Regions from separate parts of the Homo sapiens genome. Here region 2 is linked to region 1. Evidence: fine-mapped expression QTL. A gene starts in region 1. The other region holds a variant in brackets. All regions are shown on one strand. Distances are between the middles of the regions. Region 1 holds the start of CIMIP2B (ciliary microtubule inner protein 2B). Region 2 overlaps RUSC2 (RUN and SH3 domain containing 2).

Region 1 (5,378 bases):
CCCTAGGCCAGGTGGAGATGAGGATGGGTAACAGTATTGGGGCCAGATCCCTAAGCCCCCCAGCTGTAAATAGGCTGTGGCCAGTGCCTGGTCATCAGAAGAGGGAGGAGGAGCCCAGGCGTCTGTTTATGTATTTATTTATTTATTTATTATACCTATTAATAAAAAAGGTGCTCAGCCTCCAAACCATTTTCTCTTTGTGTTCCCCCACCCTCCCACCCTCCCACCCACCTCTCTCCCTTCCAAAAGGATGGCTGGGATAGGATGAAAAGGGAAGGGAACTTGATGTCCAGTGGCCTAAGCCAAGAGCTGCTTCTGGAAGGTGCTGAGGCCCAGAGCATCATGGGTGAGATGGCCAAATGTGTGGCCAAACTGGAACTTATACCCTGTGTGGCCAAGAGAGTCTGTCACATGTAGCAAGTGGCATGGCAAAGCCATTTAATTCTCAGCCAGTTGGCTAGACCTCCAAACAGCCCTCTAAAATCTGGCCCTAATTCCCCACTGTGGGTAGCTACCTCGGTTTCCTTTTCTGCCTGATAATAAAGCTGAACCACATGATCTGAGCCCTCCCATATCTATTAGTTTCAACCCCCACAAACCACCCAACCCACCCCATACCCATACAAACAAACATTCCAGTCCCCAAAGCCTCCCCGGGGGCTCTTCTCACCTGGCACGTAGCCCCCATAGTTAGGTAAAAGACCCAGGTTCTGAGGGTATGTTCTGGGAAGTGGGGGGAGATGTTTGGGGTCCTGGGCACTGCCTGGTGAGTGCTTCTGCCCAAATTCCTGCAGTGCCTGGTTGGTGAGCACAGGAAAGCTGGAGCCGAAGAGGAAGCGGGCGCAGGGCACATAGCCAGTGAAGCCTGAGGATGGGGACACTGAGCCAAGGCATCCTGGGGCCTCCCCACGCCTCTGATCCTGACCCCCCAGCTCTCACCTGACATGAAGAACTTCCGAGGGTCCCTGTCATCCATGGAGTAGGGAGAAGCCTGTGAGAGAAGCCCCTGTGCTGTCACACAATCTCCCAAGGAGGTGGAGCTGACAATCAAGTGCACATCCCCTGAACCCACAGCCACACTACTCATGCTGCCCCCACTGCCCGGACACACAGTAAGACCCCCACTCCCACACCTCTGCACTCCCCACCAGCTTCTTGGTCTCACTTGTTCCACCACCTCCAGTGTCGGCTCCTCCAGCTGCCCCTCCGGCTCTGGCACCTGGTCCTTCTCTGTGTCCTTTCTTCCCTTGGCCTCCTTTGGTAGCTCTTCACTCCCTTGCTTTTCATGCAAGTGAGTAAAGTCACTCAGAGCCTCGGCCCAGACCTGGCTGCAGTTCTTGGCAAAGATGAACTGTGCCCGGGGTACAAAACCTGGGCAGGCAGGGACAAGGAAGACTCGTTAGTGTTTGGAACACATGCTCCTGGGAGGGGCACCTGTGCATACCTGCGTACAAACCTGTGTACCCAGGGATCATGCTGGAGCTGAGCCTTTCTTGCCCACGCCTGACAGGTAGACTCTCCCTGGGAACCTCAGGAGATCTTGGAGGCCGAATGGGAGGCAGAAGTGTGCGGTGGACAGGGGGCCAGGCTAGGCCAGGAGGGCCTCGAAGTAGCTGACCAGTCACCTGCCCATAGGTCTGGCCCACGCTGAACCGAAGTAGTGGGCAGTGTCCAGTGTACCTGCAGCACAGACTCTCCCACTCACCAGAATCGCCCTGCCCCGCCATCCCCAGAGGCAGAAGCGGAGACCTCTGAAGCCCTGATCTTTCTGGACTCAGCAGTGTATATATTTGGAGCAGGCATTTCTAAGTTCTCTGCCTGGGCTTTCGATCCTTCCTCTGCTGTTACCCTGTTCCCATGGAGAGAACAACACAAAGCTTTGGGGCAGACCCGGTGTCTCACTAGTCCCTTGCTTCTCCTTTTCCATCCACCACCATAGAGACCTCAGCCTCCCAAACCAACCTGTCCGCTTGGCCCCATGCTCTAAGCAGCTTAATTCCTCCACCCTATACCCCTACTCCCAGCAGCAAGCGGGGAGCGCTAAGTGGGAGTCTTACCCTGGGATATAATGAGGGTTCTGAGGGTTGAGCCCTGGTATGAAGGTGCTGGCCACAGCCATGGGGAGCCGGGCATTTCCTTTTGTTTGCCTTTGAGCCAAGGCTCTGGTCTGTGTGTACCGTGTCCAGGGCTGTGGGGCTAGAGGAAGGAGGCGGGGCTAAGGGAGGAGAGAAGGGAGGGGGCACTCGTGTGAGGACAGCCAGGGCGAAGGCCGGCAGAACTGTAGAGCAGAGGCTAGCAGGTCTGTCTGTCCAGGACAAAGGTGGTCCTGCTCGTGGGGCAGGGCCCGAACCGAAGGAAGCCCTGAGGTGGGACGTGGGAGGTGGGACGTGGGAGGTGAGGGAGCAGAAACCATTCGGGCCACTGAGCTCTGTCTCAGCGACTTCCTTCCTGAGCGCCTGCCTGAGAGGTGGACACTGTGTTCCTCATGAGTCTTCATCAAAGGAGATGGGGGACCTGGAGAAAGGATCTTTGAGGGAAGCCAGGGCCCAGAGGGGAGGTGAAAGAGGACAGGTGATGGGGGAAAAAAAGGAACCTAGACACCTCTAGGGAGTAACATCGTTTATTTTCAATAATTTAACAAGAGTGGCTTACTGAATACCTGCTATAATCAGAGTCATCCATTCAACAAATGAGCCAGGCTCTGCCAGGCTCCGGCCACAGTGGCCGAGTGTGCACTCCATGGGAGCCAGAAAAGCTGTGGGGGTTGAGGGAAGGAAACAGGATAAAGTTGTTGTAGGTGTGGGCGGTAACACTAGGGAGCAAGTTAGAATTTGTTAAAAAAATAAAATAAAATAAAAAATTCGGATTCTAAGAGAAGAAAAAGCACAGACCAGGAAGATGAGATCTCAGAGGACGGGGAAACATGTTTAAAACCCAACTCTGGGCCGGGTGCAGCCACGCTCACATCAACGTACTGAGGAGGCTGAGGTGGGAGGATCACTTGGGTCCGGGAGTTTCAGTCCAAACTGGGCAACACAGCCAGACCCCACCTCAAAAAACAAAACAAAACAAAAAGTTCTGGGGCTGGGTCAGGGCCAGGCTGAGGGCTCAGGGCCCACGTTTCTGAGGCAGAGCTCTGCTCTTCTCCCCACCTCCAGTGACCATGCCTGCGCTGACCAAGGACGGCACTGACATCCCAGGGGAATTACATAAGAGCACTGGGCTCCAAGGCACACATTTCATGTTCCTCACTGTTCTGCCAAGGACAGCCTTAGAATGTGTCATTTAGAGTTGTGGGGACTTACCTCACAGCTGAGGAAATATGTTAGAGTGAGGATGGGAGCCGAGGGGCAAGCCCAGAATAGCAGCAGTGTGTCAAGCTTAACAACCAGACTTGGGATTCTGTGACAGACACTATCACAGCTTATACCTATTCCTGACCCCCATCTCCTTTCTTCCGAGGAGCCAGAAACTGCATCAGGGAGGCTTGGAGAGCCAGCCTGGAGGAATGAGCTGGATTAGTCTAAGCGTGGTCCCATGCTCCTTCCCCATGACCGCTTAGGCACGGGCTTCCAGCATTCTGGATAATATGAGGGGAAATCTGCTGGGGCAGGGGAGGGTCCTGGGAAAAGTTTCTTTGCTCTTAAAGAAAAGATTCACATCAAATTAGAGCAAGTGAGAGAGACAGAGATGCGCAAGACGAAACGATGTCCATTCCTGCCCCTAGACTTTTGGGGGATGTGAGGCTGGAATGCTGGCAGGCATGTGGAAGCCTTGTGGAAAGCTAACCTGAAGACAAGTCCTGGACACATCAAGGATGGATGGTAGAGGAGAAAGGCCAGGGTCCTGAGGGTAATGTAGAGCCATGGAATTAATCAGCCTTTTTATGTCAAATAGTAAATTTCATTATTAAGGCCACTTTAAGTTTTCTTTCACTTACAGCCAAAGGCATCATAACTTTAAAAAACAAAACAGCCAGGCACGGTGGCTCACACCCTTAATCCCAGCACTTTGGGAGGCCGAGGCAGGAGGATCACAAGGTCATGAGTTCGAGACCAGCCTGGCCAACATAGTGAAATCCTGTCTCTACTAAAAATACAAAAATTAGCCAAGCGTGGTGGTGGGCACCTGTAGTCCCAGCTACTCAGGAGGTTGAGGCAGGAGAATCACATGAACCCAGGAGGTGGAGCTTGCAGTGAGCTGAGATCGCACATTGCACTCCAGCTTGGGCAACAGAGTGAGACTCCGTCTCAAAAACAAAACAAAACAAAAAAACACCACTAGATCAAATCCTAGCTTCACCAGAGATATAGACTTTGTCCAAATTCATCTCATTGAGCCTCAGTTTTCTCATCTGTAAAATGGAAAAACTAATGTTACCATCTCATAGAGTAGGATATCAGCTAGCTGAGATGATACACAATGAGCAATGACCCCAGCGTCTAGCTTACGGTAAGTGCTAACTAAACAGCAATTCACGGCTAGCATTTGGCAGGAATGGGAGGAAGGAAAGGAGCTGGGAGCAGTCACAGATGTTAGAGGTTCAGGGGAAAGGTTCATGAAATTGAAAAAGGGAAAGGTTTGAATGGAAGTTGGGGTATAAATTAGGATGTAGGGACTAGAACACATTCTGCAGAAAAGACCATGGCAGTTAGAATCCGGGTATGCGTTAAAACACAAGTTAGGAAACAGATTAGGATTAGTCTTAGGTTTATGGCTTATGAAGAAACAGCTCTATCCAATTGGTAGAATGGCCTGTTACTATGATTGTTTCCATCTGAATAAAGAATATTTCTAGATCCCTGAAGGGTGTTCTAATCTGAGAAAGGAGTGACGGGGCCAGCTGAGGCACCACAGGAATGCTTGCTGCCTCTGTGCCTCCTTCCAGGGACAGACATCACAGAAACATGACCACAACTTGCTCTGATGGGAGCTGCCACACCCAGTGGCCAGTGTTGGATGTGGCAGTGGAGAGAAAATGTTTAACTGGAGACAGCGCCCCACTCAGTCCACACAGCCTGCTGGGTCCCCACAATGGCAGCCTATAGCCTTCTGTTCTGCCTTTGATTCTGACCAGGAACTGCTATAAAATTTCATACAGATCCCAAATCAATCATTTGATTGTATGTCAACCCTAGGCAAGCATAAATCCCCTCTGCAAGGATGAATAAAAGAAAATCACAGGACCTTTGAAAAAATTCCTGAAATCAACAGTCCACCAAAATTGAAACAAGAATTGAATAAACTCCAAAAGATTACATGCAACACAAAACCTTTTTTAGTTTGAAAAATACATGCAGATGCATAAAACTGCATAAAAAGGAAAGCAAGGGAATGATAAAAATGGGTTTCAAATGCTCACCTCAGATGGTGAGAAA
Region 2 (5,378 bases), 22 kb before region 1:
GAGGGGGGCGGTGCGGGGGGGGATAAAGGGGGGAACATGCGGAAGCACAAGCATTAGACAAGCTCATTGCATACATTTGGGCTATGGTGCAGAGATGGGGAAAAGCCAAGGCTTGGGCTAATGCCATTTATGCTATTTTGTCAAGAAGCAGATCTCATCCTTCCTTTTTGGGCATTTCTAATGAAGCTTCTAGTATGGGTCAGGGATGGGGGAGTCAGATCTAGAAACAAAGGCTTAATAGGAGGAGACACCCCTACAGCTACTGTAAGTTTATGATGGAGAACATGCAAGGATCCTCGCAGCTTTCAAGAGGAGGGCTGGGAAACCTTTCTCTCCACACACACACATACATACATACATGCATGCATGCATGCACATAGCTATACATGCACATAGACACACATACCATATCTTCTGGTGCTATGGGAGCCACCAGGCTCCAGGTAAGGGTGGAGTAAGAAAACATTGACCAGGGTGCCCCACAGTGTCTGGCAGGGGCAGGGACAGTCATTGTAATGCCTAGGGCACCTGATCTGTTACAGTAAGCCTTCAAGAAGAGACCTAAGCATAAGCTAACACTCCCAAATCTACCCTCCTGCCCTCCTCCCTTTGATCCTACCCAGGAGAGGACCAGTCAGGAAAAGCGTTATCAGTCCTACAGAGGCACCTTATCAGGATCTCAAGTCAAGGTCAGATTGCTAGAGAAGAGCAATTGAAGACCATTGTGTTCCCCATCTTTATTCAGAAGGCCAAAAAAGAGGGAAGGGGTTCTATGACTGGCAGAAAGACACTGATGACCAAAGCTAGAGGAAACCTTCTTTCTGGGGTTTTCCCGCCCAGAGTTGCTCCATTGCTGAGCAGGTAGAAAGAGTTCCCTAAATTCCCATTTCCACACCTGTAATCCCAGCACTTTGAGAGGCTGGGATGGGAGGATCACTTGAGCCTAGGAGTTGAGACCAGCCTGGGCAACATGGTGAAACCCTGTCTCTACAAAAAATTTAAAAATTAGCCAGGCATTGTGGTGTGCACCTGTAGTCCCAGCTACTAAGGAGGCTGGGTGGGAGGATCACTTGAGCCCAGGAGTTCAAGGTGCAGTGAGCTATGATCGCATCACTGCACTGTAGCCTAAGCAACAAAGCTAGACTCTGTCTGTAAAAAATAATTGTAAAAAAATTCCCATTTCTAATAACCACCTTGGTAGAGGGTTCAAAAACATAGGATAATAGGAGACAGTAGTGCCATGTTGTGCAACTATATGGTTAAGGAATATGCTGGATAGTTATGGGAGTGTATTTGTTCCCAGGAAGTGTCTAGGAATGTGAACCACAAGAGCAGGGAATAATGAGCCTTGAGACCATGAATGGGGCAGGGAGATGAGGGCTGGGAACTGGGGCAGGAGGTGGGATTGGCAAGTGTTATCATAGCCTGGGGACAGTATGAAAGGGACTGTAGGTTCATAGAATAGAGAGGCCGGTAGACATAACCTGTGTAAATGGAGGCTGAAATGTGGGTCTACCCAGGACAGGTAGGAAGCAGATGCTCTGGGAGCAGAGTAATTGCAAGGACTTTAGGAAGAGGGTGTGGCCCCAATCATTTTCTTTGGAAGGCCGTTGTAGTGGAAATAATTACAAATTGGGCAGACCTGGGATTGAATCCCATCTCAGATGTGTAAATGTGGACAAACTACTTACACACTCTAAGCTTTGGTTTTCTCATCTTTACAATGGGAAGGATTATGCCTACTTAAAAATGTTACAGTACATTTAGAGATGATATATATAAATTAATGGCACATAAGTGTTTAATAAATGATCACTTATAGTATTATAATAGGACAAGAGACACCCATTTGGGACAAGGGCCAGGAAAAGGGCTCTCATAGAAAGCTTTTCCTGATTTTGGAGAGCATGACCTCATAACTTTATACTGGCTGAGCCCACCATTCCACTCTACCTGGTAGGCATAGCTAGAGGGCTCATCTTCTGAAAGAGCTGTCTTCTACTTTCTTCTTATTCTGGATCCTCTGTTTCTCCCCCATCCTCATCTTCCATGTCTCTCCATTTAGTCAGGGCAGAAAAAGTCTGAAATGAGCTCTTCCAGCTCACTGTTTTCTCTTCACCTTCATTAGAGGGGATGGGCCACTTGTCTTGATGTAGAAAAAGTCACTCCCAGGAAAGGAGCCTGAGATACGCTCTCAGTAAATGTTCTCTGTGGTGTCATATGTACAGTTTACTCTCATTTTTTTTTTTTAAGACAGACTCTCGCTTTGTCGCCCAGGCTGGAGTGCAGTGGCACGATCTCGGCTCACTGCAACCTCCGCCTCCTGGGTTCAAGTAATTCTCCTGCCTCAGCCTCCCAAGTAGCTGGGATTACAGGAGCGTGCCACCACACCCAGCTAATTTTTGTATTTTCAGTAAAGACAGGGTTTCACCATGTTGGCCAGGATGTTCTCAATCTCTTGACCTCATGATCCACCTGCCTCAGCCTCCCAAAGTGCTGGGATTACAGGTGTGAGCCCCCATGCT[A/G]GGTCTACTCTCATTATATTCTTAACTGACCAAGAAAAAAGATCAAAAGTTAGGATTCCTGAGTCTCATCTTAATTCTGTTATTTATTCACTGAGTGGTCTTGGGCAAGTCATTTCATTTTTCTGGGTGTATAATTATTTTAAAATTTTTATATATATAAAATTTTTTTAAATTATTTTTATATCATATAACATTTTTTAAAATTTTATAAATATAAAAATAATTCCTTATTTTTAAAAATGAAGATGGCTCTGCCTCCTTTGGAAGTTGATGTAAGGATCAGTAAGATATGCATACATAAAAAGTGCCTTGTAAGTAAATGTGAATGGGGTGGGCAAAGCATGAGTACAAAATCTCATGAGATGCCTGGAGAACTTCCCCTTAGATGGCTGAATTGGAATCGTCTATGGAGGAGCCATTGCTCGGCCTTTCTCTTGGTTGTGTGGAGATCAGAAAGGAATAAGATCTTCTCTGAGATACAAAAGCATAAAATAAAATGAAATCAATCAGTGAAAGAGCTTGACAGTTAAAGTAGGATTCAATACAACCTAAATGTAAAAGCTACAACTATACAGCTTTTAGAAGAAAACATAGGTACATTTCTTTATGGTCTTAGGACAGGTAAAGATTTCTTAGGATACAGAAAGATTTAACCATAGAGAAACAAACTCTATGATCAGTTGATCAATTGATCAATTTAAATTTAATAAATTAAAAACTATTTATCAAAAAACACAGTTAAGAAAACAGGGACAAGCCACAGGCTGAGAGAAAATATTCATGAGGCATATATCTGACAGAGGACTTGTATCCAGAATAAATGTTAAAACTCCTATAATTCAATCATAAAAAGACTAACAACTCAGGTTATTTTAATGGGAAAAGTAGTCAACAAATAACCAGGCACCTACTGTGTTCCAAGCACAGAGTTCACTGTATTGCAGTCTCCAACCTCAGAACTGTGCTCCAGTCTGGGAGATAGATATGTCAACATCACATTACAATACAATTGTCAGTGCCCTCCAGCCAAGGGCTCCGTCATCTCCCACGCTCATGTGTTCTTCATCTCTGATTTAGAGAGTCAGCTTTCTGCATTCTGTATCTGTACATCAGTTTTTCCATATTAATGCATGTATGTCCTGGTAATGGTTTTGTGGCAGAATCATACATTCTTTTATGTGATACTTGTGAATGCCTCTTGAAAATGCTTTAAAAAGGAAGAAAAGGTACTCATTGAAGGTCAGTGATGGCTGCAACCCATAGGTACCCCTAAAATTACTGCTATCTATGTAAGAAAGTTCTCTATGCTCCTTTTAGTCCAGACTCGGGATTATGGCCAGGACTCCAGGGGAAACGTAGTTATGTATGAAAGGAGAAACCCCCTCAAAGAAAAAAAATTGTTTAGGCCCGGCATGGTGGCTCACATCTGTAATCCTAGCACTTTGGAAGGCCAAGGCAGGTGGATAACTTGAGCCCAAGAGTTCAAGACCAGCCTTGGCAACATGGAGAAACCATGTCTCTACAAAAAATACAGAAATTAGCCAGGCGTGGTGGCACACACCTGTGGTCCTAGCTACTCAGGAGGCTGAGGTGGATCACTTGAGTCCAAGAGGCTGAGGCTGCAGTGAGCCATGATCGCACCACTGCACTCCAGCCTCGGTGATAGAGTGAGAACCTGTCTCAAAAAAAAGAAAAAAATTGCTTAAATTATGCATAAAATGGGTATTTATTACATACAAATTAGAAAATACAGCTGAAGCAAAAAGAATAAAATTAAAAATAATCCAAATCATTCAACAGTGATAGGCACTGGTAACAGTTTGTTGCATGTTACAGATTTTCTTCTATGCATACAGACATGTTTATTTACAAAAATGGTGACAAACACCTGGCTAATTTTTGTATTTTTAGTAGAGACAGGGCTTCACCATGTTGGCCAGGCTGGTCTTGAACTCTTGACCTCAAATGATCCGCCCGCCTCAGCCTCCCAAAGTGCTGGGATTACAGGCATGAGCCACCACGCCTGGCCTGATTTCAGGACATTCTATTTCTATGGATTTGCCTATTCTGGACATTTCATATAAATGGAATCATACAACATCACAAAAGCCCTTTGTGACTGGCTTCGATTGTGCCCAATTTTTTGGCTACTGTGAATAATGCTGTTATGAACATTTGTGTACAAGCTTTAGTGTGAACATATGTTTTCATTTTTCTTGGGTATATACCCAGGAGTGCAGTTGCTGGGTCATGTGATGACACTATGTTTAACATTTTGATAAACTGTCAGACTTTTCCAAAGTAGCTGCACCATTTTACAATACTCCCGGCAATGTTTCAGGGTTCCAGTTTCTTCATATCATCATCAACATTTGCTAGTTGTTATTGTCTGTATTTCTTATTTTATCCCTCCCAGCTGGAGTGAAGTAGTATCTCATTGTGATTTTTATTACTCTAATGACTAATGATGTTGAACATCTTTTCATGTGCTGGTTAGACACTTGTATGTCTTCTTCAGAGAAATGCCTATTCATACTGTTTGCCCTGTCTTAAACTGGATCATATGTCTTTTTTTTTTTTTTTTTTTGAGACAGAGTCTCACTCTGTCACCAGGCTGGAGTGCTGTGGCATGATCTCAGCTCACTGCAACCTCTGACTCTCTAGTTCAAGCGATTCTCCTGCCTCAGCCTCCCAAGTAGCTGGGATTACAGGCATGCACTACCACGCCCAGCTAATTTTTATATTTTTAGTAGAGATGGGATTTCACCATGTCGGCCAGGATGGTCTCTGTCTCCTGACCTCATGATTCTCCCACCTCGGCCTCCCAAAGTGTTAGGATTACGGGCGTGAGCC

What was found. PIP is the estimated chance that this variant, and not a neighbour inherited with it, causes the effect. A credible set is the group of variants that fine-mapping cannot tell apart.
Region 2: its variant is the best candidate, but not a certain one, in a credible set for the expression of CIMIP2B in nasal epithelium (TOPMed, PIP 0.66).

What each region holds. Positions count from the first base shown.
Region 1 is chr9:35,561,710-35,567,087 of GRCh38, forward strand. CIMIP2B (ciliary microtubule inner protein 2B) reads right to left here and starts at 2,169. Exons shown (of 6, transcript NM_001164310.3): 1 at 2,058-2,169; 2 at 1,457-1,680; 3 at 1,166-1,371; 4 at 940-991; 5 at 671-865; 6 at 122-386. The coding sequence starts at 2,119. The coding sequence ends at 298. RUSC2 (RUN and SH3 domain containing 2) reads left to right here. Exons shown (of 12, transcript NM_014806.5): 12 at 1-186.
Region 2 is chr9:35,539,215-35,544,592 of GRCh38, forward strand. The region is part of intron 1 of RUSC2 (RUN and SH3 domain containing 2); the gene reads left to right. Among named protein-coding and RNA genes, the nearest start is that of CIMIP2B, 22 kb to the right of the region's middle. The variant A/G (reference allele first, on the strand shown) is at 2,526.